Homo sapiens: one gene and its partners. The protein of the gene in region 2 purifies or fractionates together with the protein of the main gene of each other region. This does not show direct contact. Each region holds a gene or a part of one and is shown on either strand. Other genes may lie near its edges.

Region 1 (3,726 bases), on a different chromosome or scaffold from region 2:
GCTGAGGCTGGTCCCAAACTCCTAGGCTCAAGAGATCCACCCACTTCAGCTACCCAAAGTGCTAGAATTACAGGCATGCGCCACTGGCTGATTTTTTTTTTTTTTTTTTTGAGACGGAGTCTCACTCTGTTGCCCAGGCTGGAGTGCAATGGGTGCAATCTCGGCCCACTACAATCTCCACCTCCCAGGTGTTCAAGTGATTCTCCTGCCTCAGCCTCCTAAGTAGCTGGGATTACAGGTGCCCACCACCACGCCCAGCTAATTTTTGTATTTTTAGTAGAGATGAGGTTTCACCATGCTGGCCAGGCTGGTCTTGAACTCCTGACCTCAGGTGATCCACCCGCCTCGGCCTCCCAAAGTGCTGGGTTTATAGGCGTGAGCCATCACGCCCAGCCCCAGCTGTACTTATAAATGTAACATATATGCTAGTAATTCAAGTCACAGATCAACTAGAAATTTCCTATAAAATTGACTTTAACCCCAATTAAATAAAAAAGGGGGCCTGTTATTTATACTCACAAAAATGAGAACTGAGGCAGTTATTGAGATTAAAGAAAAAAGATAGTTGTTGAAGAATATAGAGGTTTTGCTTAAATTATATTGCTTACTTCAGAGTTTCCTAGGATAACTACTCACCTCTCATCTTAATTTTTTTTAAGGTAAGATGAAAAAATCTTGTTATTCTTCCAAAACATTTTTGAAGATTTTTGATTTTTTTTAAGTTGTCAAAATATGTAACATATGCTGCTGGTTACTTAAAAAAAAATTCTGAACTGTAGGAAAATAGTGTAATAAACTCAAGTAAAACCAAGAGTTTTTATTCAGTGGACATAGGAGAAATCCACAAATCTATTTAAATAGATTGCACAGTGTCAACACTATCAAACAATTTCTAGCATCAGGACAAAGGATATTGTTAAGCGGTTCTTACAAAACACATACAGTTAGAAATGTAATTAAAGTGATTCTAAGTTTGAAAAAAGATAAAAATAAGTAACTCTAAGTAGAAATAATGTCAAGCTTTTGATTCAATAGTTAGCTGAAGTTAATTCATTTCAAGATAGCACTCGTCTCAAATTATTTCTGAATCAGAATGGTTATCTATTATAAAGTAAAAGGCTTAACTGCTATAAAGCCTTTGAAAATGTACATGAGGCTGGGTGCAGTGGCTTACACCTGTAATTCCAGCACTTCAGGAGGCCTAGGTGGGCAGACTGCTTGAGCCCAGGAATTTGAGACCAGTCTGGGTAACATGGTGAGACCCTGTCTCTCAAAAAAACAAAAAAACAAGAACAAAAAATTAAAAAAACAGAAAAGAAAATGTATGTGGAAATCTAGCAGTCTCAGAGATCACACATAGATGAGTTCTATTTCTTCAGATAGCTATGCTGTCTTCCATTCCTATAGGCCAAATGAAACTATAAATACTACTTAAATATAGTACATAACTTCGCTTTTGTATTCTTTTTTAGTTTACCTCATAAAAGTTGCTACAGGGGCTGGGCGCGGTGGCTCATGCCTGTAATCCCAGCACTTTGGGAGGCCAAGGCGGGTGGATCATGAGGTCAGGCGTTCGAGGCCAGCCTGGCCAACATGGTGAAACCCTGTCTCTACTAAAAATACAAAAAATTAGCCGGGCATGGTGGTGTGCGCCTGTAATCCCAGCTACTCGGGAGGCTGAGGCAGGAGAATTGCTTGAACCTGGGAGGCAGAGGTTGCAGTGAGCTGAGATCGCACCACTGCACTCCAGCCTGGGCGACAGAGTGAGACTCCGTCTCAAAAAAAAAAAAAAAGTTGCTACGGGATGGTAGAAAGGGCATTAGACTAGTTTCTCATTCTGGCTCTGCCACTGACTAGCTTGGTCACCAGAGGCAAGTCACTTAATTTCCCTAGGCCTTAGTTTCCTATATGCTGGACGAGGAAGCTGGAGCTGGCTAGATAGTGGTTGATCTACGGCTGGTGACTCTTCGTAGTATAAAATACCTAAACAGAAGCTGGACATGGTAGCTTACATCTATAATTCTAGTACTTTGGAAGGTCAAGGCAGGAAGATTGCTTGAGCCCAGGAGTTCACAATTATAGTGAGCTATGATCATGCCACCGCATTCCAGCCTGGACAACACAGCAAGACCCTCTCTCTAAAACAAAACAAAACAAACAAAAAATAAATTCCTAAACAATTGAGTTCCTCACAACATAAAATTTGTGTTCTCTAATTTCAAGTTTACTTAGCATAAGGTTTTAGCAATACACATTTACTCCATGTCCCCTCCACAGTTGGAAGACTCAACAAATTTCAAGACAATCAAGGGTTAATTCATGTGTTAATGACACTAATATAACAATGACTTAGGCCTATCTTCAGTTTTGCCCATTAATGGAATCAAAATTCAAAAATGGAAAGGCAAGAAATTTGAGAAAAATTCCTGCCTTTGTAAACAGAAACCTCAACCAAGGGCAAATATCTAATGATTGAAGGATCAGCATTATTAACTCAGATTTCTTTGACACCTAGTTTGGTTCTGCATTTTTCCCTTTGTACTATTTTGGTATGAAGGCTCTCTCTTCATGGTAAGAGAAGCTGCTGACTATACTACTATAACATTACAATGTGCAGTCGATATCTTAGGAGAATTAGTAGACACCTGGACAACTTTTAAACTTTCCATTTTTCAATGATCACTGATAAAACATCAAGGCTAATTTAGTTATTTAGAAACAATCAATAGTATTTAACACTCTATTGGGGGAAAAAAAGGATGGCAGAAATCACCAAAAAAAAAAAAAGTTGTAAAATATGTTGAGTAGATAAGCTGGCATCTGTTCTCAGAACTTCTCATCATAGGCAAGATTTATTTTCTATTCTGTATCACGAAGTGATAACCTTTCTAACTATATGGCACTCTTTGTACTCTTGCAGCATTTTATTCTATCAGAGTAAGTGAAGACTATGAAGAATGTTCTCAGTGCATCTCAATTTTTTTTTACAATCTTAGTCTCTAGTATACCAATGAGTTATTATTTTTAAAGATTCTCAGATATTTGATCAATTGTATACTTGCTAGATCAGCTTTAATTTTCAAAATATCTATGTTTCCAGTTTTGGTGAAAAAATATTTCTCAATGTCTTTTTCTTCTGTTAACTTATATCAACCACCTCTACTAAACGATTAATACGTCTTTCTTTTTGGGGTTCTGTTATTGAATGAACACCTGACACTCGCAGGTGATTTCTATTAGCTGTGAAAAAAATCACATCAGAGCCAATTTTTGGCAAATTTACATATAAATTAGAAGCCTACTGAATGAAAAGGTTTTCTAAGATTAATAAGATGAAAGCAAAGTAGCAGTTTTTTCCTACCAGGCATCATCAAGTAATGAAATGTCTACTGAAGTAGAATGTCCGTATAACTAAAGTTTTTATGTTCAGGTACTGAGACTTATTTTAAGCATTTTAAATACATAGGTCCAAAATGTTTATATAATTATGTAACTTGTTAAACATCCTTGGACATAAAAACTTTCCCCTGATGGTTTAGGATCATTATATTGAACGTAAACTATTTGATTGTGTGATAACATAATCGTGCTGATTTTTTAGCTTTTTCATTTTTGCCTCTATGTCAGACCACATGACATTTTTTGGTAGCGTCTGACTCATCAACCCTCTTTAAAATGCTGCTTCTCACATTTCATGGGTTAAGAAACCACACAACTAACTTAACT
Region 2 (3,500 bases):
AAGCAGGTTCAAGAAACAAACTCCTGTTTGTTTGCCTCTTGATGGTTCAGAAACATTCAGCTGCTTTCACCTCTAGGACAAATGCTTAAGAATTTACTCTCATCAACATTGGAACTTTACGAAAACAGGATTCCTGGTTCATCAGAAGCCTGTATTAATGAAAAATGCATTTTGTTCTTTAGTGCTTAAAAAAAAAAGAAACTCATCTACTTTTTTGCGGAACTTTTTTTGGGATAGCCATTCCTCCTATGGATAGTCATCAGCAAGACACCTAAAAGACATGTTTTCCCTAGTTCTTATCAAAAATTCATCTCACAGAAAAAGTCATTCAAGAAAGCAAAACTTTGCTTTAAGTAGATAAAGTACTGTTTATATGCATTAAACCAAGCAATCCACTCAGGGTTTTAACGGTGTAAAAACTAAATCACAGTACAGCTGAACAGTGAATGGATGGGATGGTTCTGATGAGGTATTATTTTGACATTTTGGTCTCAGAAGGTGTTTCCCCAGTATCCAATGTCTTCAACAACCGGAAAAGACCAGCAGCTTCTCGTATCCTACTGAATTCAATACAGAATGCCTGCACTTCTATAAACAAATCCTGTACATTAATAATTTTGTTACGGATCAAGGATTGGAGAAACACACACACAAGACGCACCAACCGATTCTGAAAAAGGAAAAAAAAAAATGTTAGTCTGCTCATTTTCCTGGCAGCCATTTATAAAATTTACAAAAATTTATATTACCTGCATATATTTATCCTTAATCTGTTCACAAGTAGAGATGCAATTTGATATATAAAGGTGAATAAATTCAGGAGGTAGATCAACAGCTGTAGTTAGTCTGTTTCGTAAAAGAAAATTTGGCCCATTAATTTCATTTGCTAACATTGAGAAACACTGTTAACCATAAAATACAAAATTTGCTTTGGTCATCTGGTGGAATTTTCTGACATATCCAATTCCCTAGTTTTAAATATACTTGGGCAAATTAACCTAAGAGCCATACCTACTTACTCATAAATAACACTGTTTAAAATGTCTCTACTTACATTTACATATCGCAATTATTTTTTTGAGCCCTGTCCCTGAGTATTCTTGGTTAAATCCTAAGTCATGGTCTGTTATTGGAATTTAGAGTCATAATAAAGGCCAAAGCCAGTATTTTCCAAAGGATTACATGGAATGTTTTAATGAGAAAAACGAGTGGGGTGGGAACAGGAATTCCGTACTCAAAGTATGAATTTCCAAAAGAAGATTAATATATGCTGCCTTTTCTAAACTTAACAGACCTCAAAACTTTTTTCAATAAGGCATGAGGATGTAGTGCTCCAAGGACACTGTCATGAGCTGCTGCAGTCTCTTGAGATTTGTGCGTCGCCAAAAAACGTGTTTCACGTTTAAGGATGATGCACTATGATAGGTATCGGGGGAAAACAAACAGGACCTTGTCCTTGAATTCCAAGATACTGAGCAGATAGAATCACATTGATAAAAAGATGTAAGTGATTCTGCATCTTGGACTCAGGGCCAAATGTCTGGTAGAGACAAGAACTGCTATAAGAATATGGTGAAAGGGAAGTGAACACTCAGCGTGGTCAATCCGGAGGACCTGCACAGAACTGGGCCACTGAAAAGAGTGAGTCTTCACTCAGTAGGGGAAAGACTGGAACAAAGAGGGGGGAGATGTGCAGCAGCACGTTTTCAACAAGCAGCTAGCCGGTTTTGCCAGTGACCACGGTTAAAGTTAAAAATTAATTTGGAAACCTCACATTTCCTCCCTCTGCTACCGCTAAAAGAACGCACTCTCCTTCTATGCACGTACTTCCACTCCCTCAGCTTCCAGCTGGGCTTTTTTTCCCCCAATAGTTGATGAAAAAAGGACACATTCTGTAGTTCAATTTCACATAGATTTTTTCAAAAAGCCCCAACTTACAAACAGGTGTTCAAAAACTATGCTCTCCAGTACTGAAGTTTAGTTGCTTGGCACTCAGAATGGATTTCCCCATACAGGAGGACCATATAATTTATCATCCAAAACAGGATACCACGTGAAAGGGAGCTCAGGATGCAAAGCCTCCACCAGGACTCTCAGGCACACCTGAACCTCTGGCCACCCTGCACATAAACAACTTAAGCCCTCCAGCCCATCTAATTCACAATTTACCTAAAAGATATTTGTAAGGAAAATACTCTAAAATGCAAACACTGTACAGCACACATCAAGAAGGGAAGATGTTCTGTTTTCCTGACAGTCAAGGATGGCAGGGTCAGGAGCCTGGGGGTCAGAAAGGCTGGGAGAAGAGCACGAGGAAGCTAGGACAGCATTCCTAGGATTCTCAGCTCTTAAGGTCCATATTTTTCCACACTTACAGCTGTTAGTCACTAAGAAAAAATAGTATCTATATTTGTATAGGGATAAAGAAGACAGGACTATGTATAGGGAAATAAATTTCAGCAATTGGCTGGCACACTGGCTCATGCCTGTAATCCTTGCACTTGGGAGGCTGAGGTGGGCAGATCACTTGAGGTCAGAAGTTCGAGACCCGCCTGACCAACATGGCGAAACCCCGTCTCTACTAAAAATACAAAAATTAGTCGGGTGTGGTAGCACACACCTGTAATGCCAGCTACTAGGGCGGCTAAGGCAGGAGAATTGCTTGAACCCAGCGGGTGGAGGTTGCAGTGAGCTGAGATCACGCCACTGCACTCTAGCCTGGGCAACAGAGTGAGACTCCCTCTCAAAAAAATAAATAAATAAAATAAATTTCAGCAATTAAATTTCATTTATGCTTCTACTAACACTAAATATGTTTGAAATCCTACCCTCAGTTCTTATTAACGCATGCTAAATTTACATGTAGTGAATGCTAAGGCTTACATTATTTCTTTAATAGTTAATCTTACGCCAATAATATCAAGACAAAAATCTGTTACAATTTTTCTTTCCTGGCCATCTAATCTGTATCTATCCCCACACATTTGATCAAATCTAGAAACTTACCGATTTACAACTTCCATTGAATGTAAAGACATGTCCATATTGACCAGGACAGAGAAATACTCAGTGATCTGGCTTGACTGCATTAATTTCAGCAACATTTCTATAGCGACTAAAGGGTTGTTTTCCACAAGGTCAGGAAGTTTGGCTGGGGTGAGGCCAATATGGTAGACAAGTTTGGGGTCTTTTTCCAACTCACCAAGTAGCTAAATACACCAGATTTTTAAAGAGAGAGAGAGGGAGAGAGAAAGGGTGTTGAGTCAATTTTTTTTCCCATGTATATGAAATAAGCATTTTATACAAAAAGCTACAAAACTATCTGCATTGAACCAACTTCATAAATTTCTTCCTTCAAACCCATGATGTCTTGACATTTCTAAATTTACATTTTAATTTTGAACAAACTAAAATGCAAACACATCTAAGACAGTTTATAAATATGCTAGTGATTCCTATTCCTGGGCATCAAACCAGACTCCACACTGTCTGGTCAGATA
Region 3 (3,826 bases), on a different chromosome or scaffold from region 2:
GCCTAGTCCTGTTGCCATAGCAATGGCCTCCCACTGGATTTCCAGGGCCTAGCCAAGAGGAAGGAGGAGCCGGCCCAGGCCTGGGCTGGGAGAACGGGACAGGGCTTGAGAACATCCGGGGGGTGGAGTGACTTGGGGGAAAATTCCCTGGGGCTCCACCTTCCACGACAGTCAGGGTGGAGCAGCCACAGCCTATGTATGAAAAGGGGTTATGTGGGCTTCACTCACCAGCCTAGGGTTGGCTTTAAGGAGTTCTGAGGGGGACAGAAGAAATTAAACCAAGAGGCACAGCCTGGTGGTAGAAGCCTGTCACATGAGCTTCAGGATCTGATATACCAAGATTCAGTGCTGGGTGGGTCTACCACTTTCTAGCCCTGTGACTTCTCCAAGCCTCAGTTTCTCCAACTGAAAAATGGGATTATTGAGACCCTGAGGGGGCTTACATGAAATAGTACATGAAATAGGCTTAGCACAATGCCTAGCACATAATAAGTGTTCAACAAATGTTGCCTATTATTACTGTGATTCCATTCAGTGTCACCAATGAGCTAACATCCCTGATAACCACCTCCTCCTCTTCCCTGACCCCAGGCTACCAGCATTCCCAGACCATTCCTTCACTCTCCCAGGCCCTAGTCCTGTCACCTGTTCTTCAGATACTCCAACCACCTCCTCAGTTCCCATCCTGACTCCTGAAGCACTCTCCCACCCACAAAAACATGGAGACCCTGGGGGATAGGGCCCTGCACCTCTCATGCAAGGCGGAAGTTTCCCTCACCTGGTATGCAGAGCCCTGAGGACAACCCAAACTTCTCCAACCTGCAAGGGGCATTGCCTCACTTAAAGTCACCCACTCCAGCTGGTCTGGGAAGACAGCACCAAATCCTTAAAAGGGACCCCCAGTGCTCATCCTCTGCAAAATCCAACACCCCTCCCCTAACGCTGACCCTGCCCCAGGTGTTTCAAAGATGGGAGAGGGTATGAAGACAGTAGAGAAACCCAGTACTGTCAACCCATTGGTCAGTTAACCACCACGGAAGACTGCCCACTGTGGGTGGGTGAATAACTGTGCAGAGCCAGGCCAAGTGTGGTGGGGGGAGGGGCACATGATAGAAAAAATAAAATTAAAACACAAGATTGTTTCCTTGTCCTTGAACATTATTACTAGGAACATAGTGTGGGTGGTTGGAGATGGAAATTAATTGGCTCAGAACCAAAAAAATCCTTTCACCTGGGGTTCTGATGGGCCCCTCTGCGGTATGAGGGGCTGCAGCAATGAAGGCGGGCTCAGAGTCCCCAGGTGCGGAGGTGGCCACAGCAACTCAGAGACCCCAGCCAGGGGCCCCAGGTGACCAAGGCCACCAAGGCTGTGGCCAGAAGCTGCGATTCGCAGCGGTTCTGAGCACTCCCCACCCTCAAGAGACCAGGGGGTAGAGGGTAGCAGGGTAGAAACGAGCTGACCCCTGGCAGATAAGGCCTCCAGAAGGGCTGGGCAGCTCCAGCCCCGGAGGGGACTCGGCGCAGGCGGGGTCGCCCCTATGGACCCCAGGATCTCCAGCCGGATCCGAGGCTAGAGAGGTCGGCAGGGACAGCACGTAAACTGCTGGAAAGAGGGAGGGCCAACGGGAAGATGGAACAGCCCCGGGCAATGGGCTGTCTGGAGGGGCCCAGTGGGGAGCTCTGGACACAGAAGGGACGGCGGCAGCCGAAGAGGAGGAGGAGGAGGGGGCTGCGGTGGCGGCAGAAGCGGAGGACCTGTGAGCGGGCTGTGAAGCAGCCGGCGAACAGACGGTGGGCTGCAGACGTCGATCAGGTGGGGGCGGACTGGGGTGGCTGGGGGCGTGCCGAAGGAGCCGGGGGAGGGGGCTAGCGCGGCCCGGAGGAAGGGGAGGCAGGGGTCCCTCCAGCGGCTCTGCCCGCCCCCGGCCCCGCCCCAAGCCCTCGCCCCCTCCCCCCTTTCTTCTGGCTCTGCCAGCACGAGCTCCAAGCCATGCGCCCTCCGCCTCCGCGCACACGCGCCACCTTCCCCCGGGCCTCCAGCGTCCCCAGCGCCCTCGGCCCCTGCAAACTTTCCTGGTGACCCCCCGACCACCACCACCTCAACCCGAGGTGTCGGCTGGAAAGCACCCACTCCTTCCATGCCCCTCCCCCGCCCCATCCCGGACCCCGCCCCCTCCTTCGCCCGACCGCCCCCGCGCACTCACGCGCTCGCCCGGGGTCCGGCTCCGCTCGGCTCGGGGCCCCGATGCCAGTCCCCGCCGCCGCCGCCGCTGCTACCGCCGCCGCCGCCGCCGTCACCGCGGGACGAAGCCACTGCGAGCCCCGGCGGGGCCCCGCCCCAACTCCGCCCAGGTCCACGCCCCCAGGGCGCTTCATGAATATGCATGAGCCGGTTGGAACCCGGGAGTGGGAAGCCCGTGCAGAATTCGTCCCACCGTCGGCAAACAGGCGCGGCCCAGCACTCAATTATTCATGAGGCTTGCAGATGAGGGGCCCGCCCCAGTCTCAGACCGGGGCGAAACTGACGCAATTCAGCCGGGAGCGCTCGGGTAAAATGGCCACCGAGACGACTGCCTAGAGAAACTGCCTTGGCGGCCCCTCCCGGGCTCCGCCGCCTGCACAGAGCACAGTATCATCGAGCTACGCCGGCAAGAAGGTAGCCGCCGGCTGACTGAAGCGGCTTCCTGATACAACCACCTGAGTGCTGAGAACGCGCGCAACGTGGCCACCCTCCTGTGTCAATTCAGATTTAGAGCCACCGTGAAGAAGTCTGGCAGCTCTGCATTCCTCATTAGTGACCTTTATCTCCTTTTAGGCCCCTTCTCAGACATGGGTTCCTCCCTACACTGAAGTTTGTATACCCCCTTCTTCCCGTAAGAACAAAAGCTTCACATATAACTCCGTACTTTGTTGCACCACCACCAGGCTGCAACCACCACCACTCTACGCACACGCTCATCCTCCCCGACTCTCCAGGCTCAGGTTTCCACTCCCCCGGCTGCGGGAAGGACAGTCAATCCTGATTTCATTATCGAAAGCCTTGGAAGACCCTTGACTCATAGGTAAGGATGCAGCCAAGAGCTGCCTCCCCCTAGCTTGGTTGGCTAATGGAGTGTAACTGGGAGAAACTTCCTAATCAGATCAGCTCTCATTTCTAGACTCTCAGGTGGCCCATCCGGGCAGAGGCGGGTGAAAACCAATGCTCGTCCAGCCGGGAACAGAACAGGATGTACCTCGAGACTTGCTTCCCGGCTGGCCAGGAAGGCCCTGCCCAGTCTGACCAGAGCAGTAAACACCACCAATAAAAGTGGGAGCAACACACCAAGGCTACAAAGAAAGCATGAGGACATGGTTTCCAAAGTCAGTTCCCTTTATTAAATCATTTTCACAGACCAGAAATACAAAATGAAAGTAGAAATAGGCCCCAGGTAGGAGCTACAGGCCTGGCCTCACATGACCCCTGCTCCAGCAACTTGAACAGGACAAGCAGCAGCTACATCCTTAAGGTCGGGAAAGTAAGATGAGGATTTGGATCCTGCATTGCCCTGCCTCCCACCCTATCTCTCCCCAAATTATAAACAGCCATCCTTGGGAAGCAGCAGAGTTAAGACGTCTCCCCACTGCCCTAGTGACATACACACCAACAGGAGAGCATGTTCAGATGGCACAGAATCCAGGGACTGCATTTCATGAGGAGAAACTGGTACCAAAATATGGGTGGGGAGTCGGGGGGTGTGAGAAGGCAAGCGCAAAGAGAACCTTCCTCCGTTTCTACTCATCGGATCCTGACGCTGAGTCCTCTGAGCTGGGGGGAGTACTGGCTAGT

What was found.
Region 1: the proteins of CNOT11 (region 2) and BTG3 purify together in Homo sapiens (co-immunoprecipitation; 3 studies listed by BioGRID and IntAct, with this or other methods). This does not show direct contact.
Region 3: the proteins of CNOT11 (region 2) and TNKS1BP1 purify together in Homo sapiens (affinity purification with mass spectrometry; 6 studies listed by BioGRID and IntAct, with this or other methods). This does not show direct contact.

Annotation. Positions count from the first base shown.
Region 1 is NC_000021.9:17,599,385-17,603,110, forward strand, and holds part of BTG3 (protein BTG3), read right to left. Parts: intron 1-3,726. UniProt on the Homo sapiens protein: Overexpression impairs serum-induced cell cycle progression from the G0/G1 to S phase.
Region 2 is NC_000002.12:101,266,386-101,269,885, reverse strand, and holds part of CNOT11 (CCR4-NOT transcription complex subunit 11), read right to left. Parts: exon of another isoform or gene 3,210-3,500; coding exon 3,007-3,209; intron 847-3,006; coding exon 750-846; intron 671-749; coding exon 473-670; 3' UTR 1-472. UniProt on the Homo sapiens protein: Component of the CCR4-NOT complex which is one of the major cellular mRNA deadenylases and is linked to various cellular processes including bulk mRNA degradation, miRNA-mediated repression, translational repression during translational initiation and general transcription regulation.
Region 3 is NC_000011.10:57,322,636-57,326,461, forward strand, and holds the start of TNKS1BP1 (182 kDa tankyrase-1-binding protein), read right to left. Parts: upstream 2,318-3,826; 5' UTR 2,205-2,317; intron 1-2,204. Other genes in the region: FACT complex subunit SSRP1, read right to left, coding at 3,772-3,826.